Linked DNA regions of Homo sapiens. The protein of the gene in region 1 purifies or fractionates together with the protein of each later gene. This does not show direct contact. Each region holds a gene or a part of one and is shown on either strand. Other genes may lie near its edges. The genes, in order: TTC14, CCNQ and AMPD3.

Evidence for each region.
Region 2: the proteins of TTC14 (region 1) and CCNQ purify together in Homo sapiens (affinity purification with mass spectrometry; one large-scale study listed by BioGRID and IntAct). This does not show direct contact.
Region 3: the proteins of TTC14 (region 1) and AMPD3 purify together in Homo sapiens (affinity purification with mass spectrometry; one large-scale study listed by BioGRID and IntAct). This does not show direct contact.

The regions. Positions count from the first base shown.
Region 1 is NC_000003.12:180,608,245-180,611,630, forward strand, and holds the end of TTC14 (tetratricopeptide repeat protein 14), read left to right. Parts: exon of another isoform or gene 1-456; coding exon 457-566; exon of another isoform or gene 567-1,385; coding exon 1,386-2,298; 3' UTR 2,299-2,886; downstream 2,887-3,386.
Region 2 is NC_000023.11:153,589,075-153,592,726, reverse strand, and holds part of CCNQ (cyclin-Q), read left to right. Parts: coding exon 1-221; intron 222-3,652. UniProt on the Homo sapiens protein: Activating cyclin for the cyclin-associated kinase CDK10.
Region 3 is NC_000011.10:10,461,740-10,465,391, forward strand, and holds part of AMPD3 (AMP deaminase 3), read left to right. Parts: coding exon 1-1; intron 2-3,652. UniProt on the Homo sapiens protein: AMP deaminase plays a critical role in energy metabolism.

The DNA.
Region 1 (3,386 bases):
AACTGGGCTGTGCTATTTTTTTAAATGGTTTGTATTTGAACATGGTGATTCCTCCTTCACTTCACCTTAACGGAATGTCTTTATTTGAATTTTATTTGTAAAATGTGTCCTGTTTAAATTTTTCAATCTTTAAAAATAATTTTTATGTACTTTTTTTTTTTTTTTAACCTTTCTTGCACTCTGGGTCATGGGTACCACTGCAATGGCTTCCCCTTTTTTTATGGGATACCAACTGCAATATGGTCCTCAATGCTGTTCTGGCCATTTCAATGACTAATGCCAAACATCTGTATGACTAATTTTTTTATGTTAAAAAAATACTGTTTAATGCTGGCTCTATGGTGATTTGGTTTTACTAAATTGGGTTTCTCGTTGGGGGTGGTCTTTTGAATACTGGGTTTTATATATTCTGCTATTTTTAACGTGTGGTTTTTTTCGATATCTGGGTTCTAAAAGAAATCTTTGGAATTAAGAGAAAAACAAGCTGAAAAGGAAGAAAAGCAGAAAACAAAGAAAATAGAAACAAGTGCAGAAAAGTTGCGTAAGCTCTTAAAAGAAGAGAAGAGGTAAACTATAATATTCAGTATTTTTAAACTTAAGGCAACTACTGAATTGAACCCAAAGTGCCATACTGGAGGTAAAGTAAATAAAAATATGAAAGTATTTCAAGTGCCAATCAGTGACTGTTAAGAATCTTTAGCAAATATGTGTTCCATGTATTTTCTTATTAAAGAGATGAAGTGGAATTTAAGGCTAGAATTCTACAAAAAAAGAGTATCTTAGAATTAAAATATAGAATAAGTTACTTTAATTATGTTTTAGGAAGAAATATTTTAGAACTAGAGCAGTGGTTCTCAACTAGGGGTGGATTTATTCACCCGGGGACATTTGACAAGATGTGGAGACATTTTTGATTGCCATAACTGATAGGGTGCTACTGCATCTAGTGTATAATGGTCAGGGATGCTCTTAAACATTCTGTAATGCACAGGTCAGCTCCCACCCGCACCCCCACCCCCTACCAAGAATTATTTGGCTGAAAATACCAATAATCAGGTGAAGAAACCATGAACTAGAGGTAGCCAAATAAAAAAGTTGAGTTCTCCTTTATGTGTTCAGTAGTCTTAAGTTTTTAAGGTAGTGTTGAAAAAAGTCTGTCTTTCAGAGATGATGGATTTGCTTACAATGATACCTGTCTGCAAGCATTTTTTCCCCCAAAAGTGCTTAATAGTAAAATTAGATCTTGTAGTAGCCGAGATTATTGTATCATTTATCTGAACCACAGCTTTTATAAAATCTTTAAAGGAAACAAATAGGGCCCACATCTTTATGAATAATTTAGAAACATTTTTGTATATATATGACAAATGAACTGTTTTTTTTAGGCTAAAGAAGAAAAGAAGAAAATCAACTTCTTCTTCAAGTGTTTCTTCTGCTGATGAATCAGTGTCTTCATCATCATCCTCTTCCTCTTCTGGTCACAAAAGGCATAAGAAACATAAGAGGAACCGTTCAGAGTCTTCTCGCAGTTCCAGAAGGCATTCATCTAGGGCATCCTCAAATCAGATAGATCAGAATAGGAAAGATGAGTGCTACCCAGTTCCAGCTAATACTTCAGCATCTTTTCTTAACCATAAACAAGAAGTGGAGAAACTACTGGGGAAGCAGGATAGGTTACAGTATGAAAAGACACAGATAAAAGAGAAAGATAGATGCCCTCTCTCTTCATCTTCACTTGAAATACCGGATGATTTTGGAGGTAGGTCTGAAGATCCAAGAGATTTTTATAACAGCTATAAAACCCAAGCAGGTAGTAGCAAAACAGAAAAGCCATATAAATCAGAAAGACATTTTTCCAGTAGAAGAAATTCCTCAGATTCCTTCTGTAGGAATTCAGAGGACAAGATTTATGGTTATAGGAGATTTGAAAAGGATATAGAGGGAAGAAAAGAGCACTATAGAAGGTGGGAACCAGGTTCTGTGAGGCATTCTACCTCACCAGCAAGCTCAGAATACTCTTGGAAGTCAGTTGAGAAATACAAAAAATACGCTCACTCTGGATCACGTGATTTCAGTAGACATGAGCAAAGATACCGTTTAAATACAAATCAAGGAGAATATGAAAGAGAGGACAATTATGGGGAGGATATCAAAACAGAGGTTCCAGAAGAAGATGCACTAAGTAGCAAAGAACACTCAGAAAGCAGTGTTAAGAAAAATTTACCTCAGAATTTACTGAATATATTTAATCAGATAGCTGAATTTGAAAAAGAAAAAGGAAATAAGTCAAAAAATTAATACACCAAGGATATCGGCACCATTACACAAAATGCCATTAAGTGAAGTTTTTGGTTGTATTAGTCATAACAGTTGAGTGCAGAAATCTCTGCTTCTAAAATTATTTGTAGAGATTACAGGAAACAAATGCTTTTAAGTAAGTTTTTCTCAAATTTTGTTTCAGTTCTAGGTCCCTTGTCACAGCTTGGTTTTTAGACTTTTTATGTATATGTTTATGTACAGTATATTACTCTTGACAGTTTGAATTTCTTCACCTAAAGATAATTCTCTGAAAGTACTGTTTCTTCATTCTATTGCGGTATATGAGAATTCCTGGGTGCATCTTATTCTGCTGTTTGAGAGAAAAATTTGTGCATTGAACACTTGGATCATTTTTATAAAAATTAATTTCATTTTCTTTTCTGTTAAATTAAAAATCGTCAGCTTTTGAAAGATTATATGTTCGAATGTTTCTTGAACACTTTTATATTTATCAGTTTAAATATTACATTTTTTGCCCAATTTTTTTTAAAATTTTTAAATGGTAGATTATATGTCTTAATTTTCCTCTAAAGCCCAATTTGATTAAAAGTGGTTTGTGAACAGTCATTGGCTTCCACCCAGCATAAGTGCCTTAGGAATAAGATCATAAAAGTTGAATAGGAGCCCATTTTGCTTATTTCTCCATTATTTTTTACCTCATTGCTAGCATAGCCATAAAAAGCTTTTTAACTTTAAATATTTACAAGGCCCTTAGGGCCTGTATTCCACGCAAGGGTAAATCAGAAAAGAAAAAAATCCTTTTAGCAAAAACATAGCAGTAGCAGAGAAGCACATTGTAAATCTGGCTTTTCTTTAGGGAAAGAAAATTGGGAGACTCTCCTAGTGTAGCAGATGTTCAGTCCAGAAGGCACTAGGCATGTCGTTAAATCTGACCTGCATTTCTTCTTACCACCTCCTGTGCCTTGATGCTTCTCTGATGACCCCTTTCTCAGAGTCTGAATAAATAACTAGACCAACTAGAGCCTGGTTTTACTAAGAATAATAAATTCCAGCAGCTAGAGCTGAAGAACAAAGAGACTTGGATTATAAAGATCCTCCCCAAATTG
Region 2 (3,652 bases), on another chromosome or scaffold:
TCCACTACCTGGTTTCCCTCCAGAACTGGCTGAACCGCCACAGCTGGCAGCGGACCCCTGTTGCCGTCACCGCCTGGGCCCTGCTGCGGGACAGCTACCATGGGGCGCTGTGCCTCCGCTTCCAGGCCCAGCACATCGCCGTGGCGGTGCTCTACCTGGCCCTGCAGGTCTACGGAGTTGAGGTGCCCGCCGAGGTCGAGGCTGAGAAGCCGTGGTGGCAGGTGAGGTGGCTGCTTGGCACACTGGACGTGCCCCCTTTCCCTCTGGAAGTCTCTGTATTGCAGTGCTCACCAAATTCTATTAATTATCCATGAAGAAAGATACGGGCTGCTGGGGAACATGGAAGCTCGAAAGTACCCTGTTGCGATGGCCTGGGACAGGCTCTCCCCCTCGGCACAGTTGCCATTTAGGGGTCCCGGATGTCGAACAGGAGTGCTGGCCTCCACCGACGTCGCCGGTGTCCCGGGAGGAGGGTTGCCCCAGCGGAGAACCGCTTTTACTGAATTGAGTGGGAACTTGACTGTGATCACAGGTTACTAAACCTGGCTTCCCATCAGAAACATCTGGGGTGCTTTATGGAGAGGGCTGGATGGCTAGGTAGGTGACAGCTAGCTGGCTAGTTGACAGACACCTGGATGGATAGGGGAGAGAGCTGATGGGCAGGGTGGCGGGTGATTGATAGGTATTAATAGGTAGATCATGGAGGGTAGATGGTGGAACTCTGTAGGCCTGTGCATAGGACAGCTTTCCAGGTGGCTGGTGCTGTTCTGCATAGAGGTAGCCCTGCCTCTCTTCCCTGGCCCGTGTGCCTTGTGGAAGACCACAGCATTTGCTGATTTTTGCGTGTTTATTGTGTAATCTCGTATCCCCAGTCAGCTGTGAGTGCCTGAGGCTGGGCATCTCTTCCCCAGTCTCCCGCGCCTCCCTGGCACCAAAGCGGGTGCTCATGTGTCTTTGAACCCATGCACCCATGTTCCCAGTCTCAAGCCGGAAGCACCCTGTCCCCAAGGCAGTGTGCAGGTGGTGCAGGGCCATCTGTGTAGACAGTGTTGCCCCACGCTCGGGCTGCTCAGGGACTTTCACATAATGTGGCTGCCTCGTGCTCAGGGTTGGACTCTGGGGGGGGCAAACACCCTCTGGGGACATCTGGTGGGTGTGGCCCTGGCCCTGGGCTGCCTGGCTATGCTGCATCTGTCTTCCTTTCTGCTCTGTCTTCTGCGCTTGCTCGTAAACCTCACCTGGTGTGGCAGTACCACCTGCGTCCCATGCTCAGCCCCTCCCAGAGGAGTGCGAGCCCAGGTAACCCTGCACAGCCAGGAAGCAGCTCTACCAGCAAGTTGTTTGCTGGCGGCCCAGACTCACCCAGTCATCGTTCAGACTGGGAAGAAGTTACCCTTTGTGGGGTGTGGAACTTCTGTTCAGCCAGCTCTTCTTAAAGGCTCTGCTAAACTTGACCTGACCTTTGCCTCCCAGCTCGGGGCTGTGCACCAGAAGCTTCCGGAATCCAGGTGCCTCCTGTGGGCTGGCGGGGTGCGAGGGCCTGATCCCCCATGATGAGTGAGATCCTGGGAGGCCTCACCCACCCGGGTGCTGCAGAGCTCACGGCCTGGCTTTTGAAACCCTTTCTTCCTTGTGTGCTCTCGGCTGCCACTTCTTACGGTGACTCCTGTCACTTATCTGCCACGGGCTCAGCATGGCAGCTTGATGTGCTTCCCTGGAGAAGCCTGCCTGCACTCTGACTTGCCAGATGAGCAGGGACAGTAGCGGGGTCAGAAATGATGCAGGTCGTCACGCAATGCTGCTGAAACTTCCACGTCCAGAGCCACACCGAGTGCCCTCCATCCCCTTGTTCCTGAGCAGAAGGAGAACCTGCCTCTTTCCAGCCACTGCTGCTTTTTGTCTTATAAGCAGATGGACTGCCCTCAAAAAGGCAGAGTCCCCAGAGGCCAGCAGTGTCTCCTCCTAGGACTTGGGTCTGTGTCTCTTCTGCTGTCAGGTGCCCCAGGGTTGCCACCTGTTCTGGACTGTTACATTTAATTGTGGTGACATAGACATCACCTAAATTGTACCACGTTCACCATTTTTAAGTGTGCGGCCCAGGGACGGAAGCACATTCACGGTGCTGTGCAGCCATCACCACCATCCAGCCGCAGAAATTGTTCATCTTCCCAAACTGAAGCTCTGGCCCCGTTCAACCCCAACTCCCCACCCCCAAGCTCCTGGCACCCAACCTTCCACTGTCCTCTACAGAGTTCACGGCTCTCCTTTGAGGCCCCTCACAGGAGTGGAATCCTACAGTGCGGGCCTTTCTGTGACTGGCTTCTTTTGCTGAGCACAATGTTGGAGCCCCCGTCTCAGAATGTCCTTTCTTTTGATGGCTGAATCATATTTCATGGCCTGCATGGACCATATGATATTAACATATTCATCCATCGATGGATGCAGGCTGCTTCCACGTTTTGGCCTTGCTTTTTTTTTTTTTTTTTTTTTTTTTTAATAGAGACAGAGTCTCACTCTATTGCCCAGGCTGGAGTACAGTGGCGCAATCTCAGCTTACTACAGCCTCCACCTCCTTGGTTCAAGTGATTGTCCTGCCTCAGTCTCCTAAGTAACTGGGATTACAAGTGCCTGCCACCACACCTGGCTAATTTTTGTATTTTTAGTAGAGACGGGGTTTCACCATGTTGGCCAGGCTGATCTTGAACTCGTGACCTCCAGTGATCCACCCGCCTCGGCCTCCCAAAGTGCTGGGATTACAAGCGTGAGCCACTATGCCCAGCCCCTGAATGTTTTTTAATGATTGCTTCTGAGCTTGGGGTCTCCAGGAGCACACAGGTCATGGACCCCAGCAAGCAAGTGTGCATTTCTGAAGTATTTGTTTTTCACCCAGAGCCCAGGGTAAGACAGCTATGCTTCCTGAGTCAGGACTTGGAGGGCGTCCAGGTCACCATCTCCTACCTGAGGTTGTAGGCCACAGAGGAACCTAGGGTTCTTTGGGAGCATTCAGCAGGGGTGGACGTAGGTCCAGTTCTTGCCTTGACTTGGCCCAAGGCCTTGATCTGATTGGTACATTGGTTCCCCAGGCAGCAAGCTCTGGCACAGGGTGGCTACAGACGCAGCATCTGACCAAGGTCTTGCTGCTTTACTTACTATTTCCCTTATCATTGGGGATCCCGAAGAGCACCCTGGGGCTCAGTGCTGTGCCGGGAGGGCTCGGAACTCAGAAAAGCTGTCACACTCCCAGTTCCGGTTTATTACAAGGAAAGGACACAGGTTACCGTGAGCGAAGGCTCAGGGCGCACAGGGCGGGCTCCAGGAGAGACCAGGCGTGAGCTTCAGCGGCTCCTCGCCCAGGGGAGTTGTGCAGACGGCACCTGTTTCTTTCGGCAACAGTGTGGGACAGCGAGCACGGAGTCACAACCGGGAAGCTCATCCCAGCCATGGCGGCCAGGGTTTCCGTGGGAGGTGGTGGGCTGCATGGGCATGGAGCGCCTGCGTGGCCAACCCTGGTCACTTGGGCTGCAGCCACCAGAGATCTGGCTGGGACTCTGTGGCCCAAGGCCCTCACCATAAATGATGTGGTTAGCACAGACCGCCTGGCAGTCCAGTAAACCAAGACGCTCACACGGGGCAGGATTTTCTAGGGGCCTAG
Region 3 (3,652 bases), on another chromosome or scaffold:
GGTTTGTTCCCAAGGCATGGTTTTCGTGTACATAGAGTCATGCAGACCCAGGCAGGCTGTGGGTGTGTGTCCTGATATGAGGCACCTCATGGGGACTGGTATGTCCCTAGAGCTGTGTTGGTTCCTTAACCAAGACCACTTAACTCACCTCTTATTTATTGAGGGATGTCTCGGTGCCTCTGTTGCACTGAAAAGATCAAAACCCACTTTGCTGCTGATGTGAAAAAATACACACCATTTCCAAATGGCATTTCTCTTTTCTTTTTGGAAATTTGAGGATTTCTTAGGAGACAGCAATTGTATTTCTTCTCATCACTTGACAAGCATTTTGCATTACTAATGAACACAGCTTACTATTTGCCGGGTGCTGTGCTGGGACTGGAGATGTTATAATGAACAAGATAGATAGAGTCCCTGGGTCTAGACAATAATTAAGTAACTGGACAAATTAACTTAAAAATTACAAGTTATAATAAGTGCTGTATCAGTCAGGGTCCAACTAGAAGATCAGAAACCAATGAAGTATTAGAATTTTAATGCAGGGAATTGGTTACACAGGTGGTAGAGAGCTGAGAAACCAAACAGGGGAGAGAGAGGCGGCTCAGAGATTAGACACAGTAAGGAGCAGCTACTACCCAGGACAGGAGTGACAAGGAAAGCAGTAGTGTTTCTGGAGCCAAGGTGGAGTCGCCCTGGGGAAGGTGGAACTGTGGTGGACTTTCCAGTGGAAACTGGAGCCAAGGGGAAGAGGTGGCAGCTGCAGAGATGCCTCCCAAGGCAGAGATGGAGGCAGGCAATACCTCGTTTGACCCTTTCTGCACCTTCCAGGTTCTCCCAGTGGCTGCCATGGGCCAAACCTAGCCAGAATCCTGCTGGCACACTTGGGAAACACAGGAGAGGATGAGGAATGGATCTGAGGGCAAACAGGCCCAGGAGCAGCGCAAGTGCTATGAAAGAGATGAATAAGGATGAGATGGGGTTAGGGGAGAGAAAGGCCGGGAAAGAGAGAGAAAAAATCCTTTTTTAGACTGGGAAGTCAGGGAAGGCCTCTCCAAGGAGATGACATCTTAGCGGATGCTTCAGGGTATAAAGAAGCTAGCTATGTGGCCTTCCAGATAGAAGAATCAGCTAGGGCAAAGGCCCCCCAGTTTCTTCCAGAAGGCCCATGTGGTTAGAGGTCTGTTAAAGGAAGAAGTGCTGTGACCAGGGCTGGAGGACTTGTGGGGCCCAGATCAGACTGGCCTTGTGCTCCCTGATAAGAAGTTTGGATTGGAGTCTAAGTGAAATGAGAAGCCCTCATCCTTTCACAGTTTATCTCACCCTGGGCTTTATCAGATTTTCTGCCTGCCCGGTACCCTGCAAACATCAATAGTTGACATGGTAGACCTTTGAGCCCTCTCCGACCTAGTCTGTGATCACACTAGATACTGCCTCAGTTTTAAAGGCAAGTCTTTTCCTTTCTTGGTTGTGTAGAAGCTCGCATTTTCTTAACTCGTTTGGAAAGAAGTAAAAAGTTGACTACTGGTGTAAAGGCAAGAACAGAGCTTCACCACTCATAAGACCAGTGCTTTCCTTCCTTGAAAGGATGGTGAGCCCATAAAGGCAGGAGTCACTGGTGCCATTGGTTAACCTCTGAGTGCCAGCCTTGTGTTGGATAAGGTGGGGTGGCCCCAGCCCCAGCAGTGTGCTCATCCCTGGAGGGTCAAGAAGAGTATGACTGTAGAGACCCTCATTCACACTCCGTGGGTGGAACAGAAGGGCTGACTTCATCAAGTGAATGGTCTGCAGGGCCTTCTGTGTGTTATGAATTGAGCATTTGAGACCCTTAACAATGAGAGGAAAAGAAATCCTGGCATTTTTTATTACTAGGAACAATAAGTTTCTGGAACCAGTTTCCACTACAGAGTGACACTGGGCCTGACATCTGCTGAAGCGACTGTGCTCTTCTCAATGCCCAGACTCAGGGCAAAATGGAAGCTTTCTTACTCTAAGTCTTAATGGTGCTCTGTGGTTTCCAGAAATTCCCCTGCAAACTTCTCTCCAAAAACTTTGTTCTGTCCTTGCCTAGGTTATGGTGTCTTAGTTTGCATCTGTCTGCGCCATTTGACTAGACGCTCCTTGAGGACTGGATCCATTGTGGAACTTAGTTGGTGGGCAGTGGATGTCTGGCAGAGGAAGACATCCTGCCTCCCCATTGCCACCATGGACACTACATCAGGGTGGCTGCAACTTCTTGGACCTCTGTGTTCTGCCACTCACTGTCATGCTCTGTGACTTTGGGGAAATTAGGAAACCTCTCTGGGCCTCAGCCTCGTCCTCATCTATAAAGTGGAGATGCTAACAGCTACCTTCATGGGGTGTTGTGAGGAATGAGGGAATCCACAGGTAAAAGGCTTCGGACAGTGTCTGGTTATAGTGCATCCCGAGTAAATATAAGTGATTTCTCTGACTTCCTGCTGCTGAGACAGGGAACAATAGCAGCTCCTGCCATTGAATACTTACTATGGGCTAAGTACTAGCCTGTGTAGGTTGGATTCATTCTTTAATTCTCACATCGAGCTTATCAAATGGATATTCTTAGTATTCTGATTTTGCAGATTAGGGAACGAAGGCTCAGAGAAGTTGAATTTACTTTCACAAAGACACATAGTGAGTAAATGACAGAGCAAGAACTAGAGCCCATATCTTTTGAATCTAGACCCCACACTTCAACCATAAGGCTATCCCCTCTTCAGGTAGGGGTGGAGTCTTCGGTTCCCTGGTCTGTAGACCCTGGAATGACACTAGGTGCTGCTCCCTAGAATGTAATTGTTGCTTCTAAATGAAATGGAGGGAAACTGGTCAAAGCTCCCGCTCTGTCCATCGGCTTCTTTCCTGAAAAAAAGCTTGGTCCCTGGACTGTCAGATGCCCCAGCATCCTCCTCTGGGGTCTGCCCATACCCAATTTTGTCTTTTAGTTTCTCTTCTCACTAGAGGTGCCTTTATATGTAAATGTTCGAAAGTTAACATTTTCATGGAGGACACCCTCTCCCCAGCTCCCTCTTTGTCTGTGGCACCTCCCATCCCATCTCCTATTTATTCTTACTTTACACAGAATTCTATAATCTGGCTATATTGTTTCTTATCCCGTGGCAGATTTAAAGAAGCAAATTAGAAGCAGGGAGAGAGACTTCTACAGGCAGGGTCACAGAGGTGATGTGTGGTGATTATAAGCCTGGGCTTTGGGGTCAGACCTATTGGGTTCAAGTGGCAGCCCTGTCACTTACTACTGAATGGCCTTGGTCAAAGCTCTTGACTGCCTGAGCTGGTTTCCTAAACTGCAAAATGAGAATAATAAAAGGACATACCTTGTGAGAATTAAATGAGCGAATACACAAAAAATCCTTAGCGCAGTGCTTGGAGCACCATTAATGTTCCTGTTTTGTTATTGTTGTTATTAGACAGTCAACAGTGAGAGAGGAAACAAAATAATTATGAAAAGCAGGCACAAGAATTTGAAGCACAGTAGTTTAGGGATAACACACCTCTGAGATCATAACTGGATAATACAGTGATGATCCTGGGTCATTGAGAAAACTTTAAATTATGTTCAGCATGCTTTGAGGAAGAATGCAGGAATTATGTATTTTTTTAAGAAGCCAGATAAAAATTG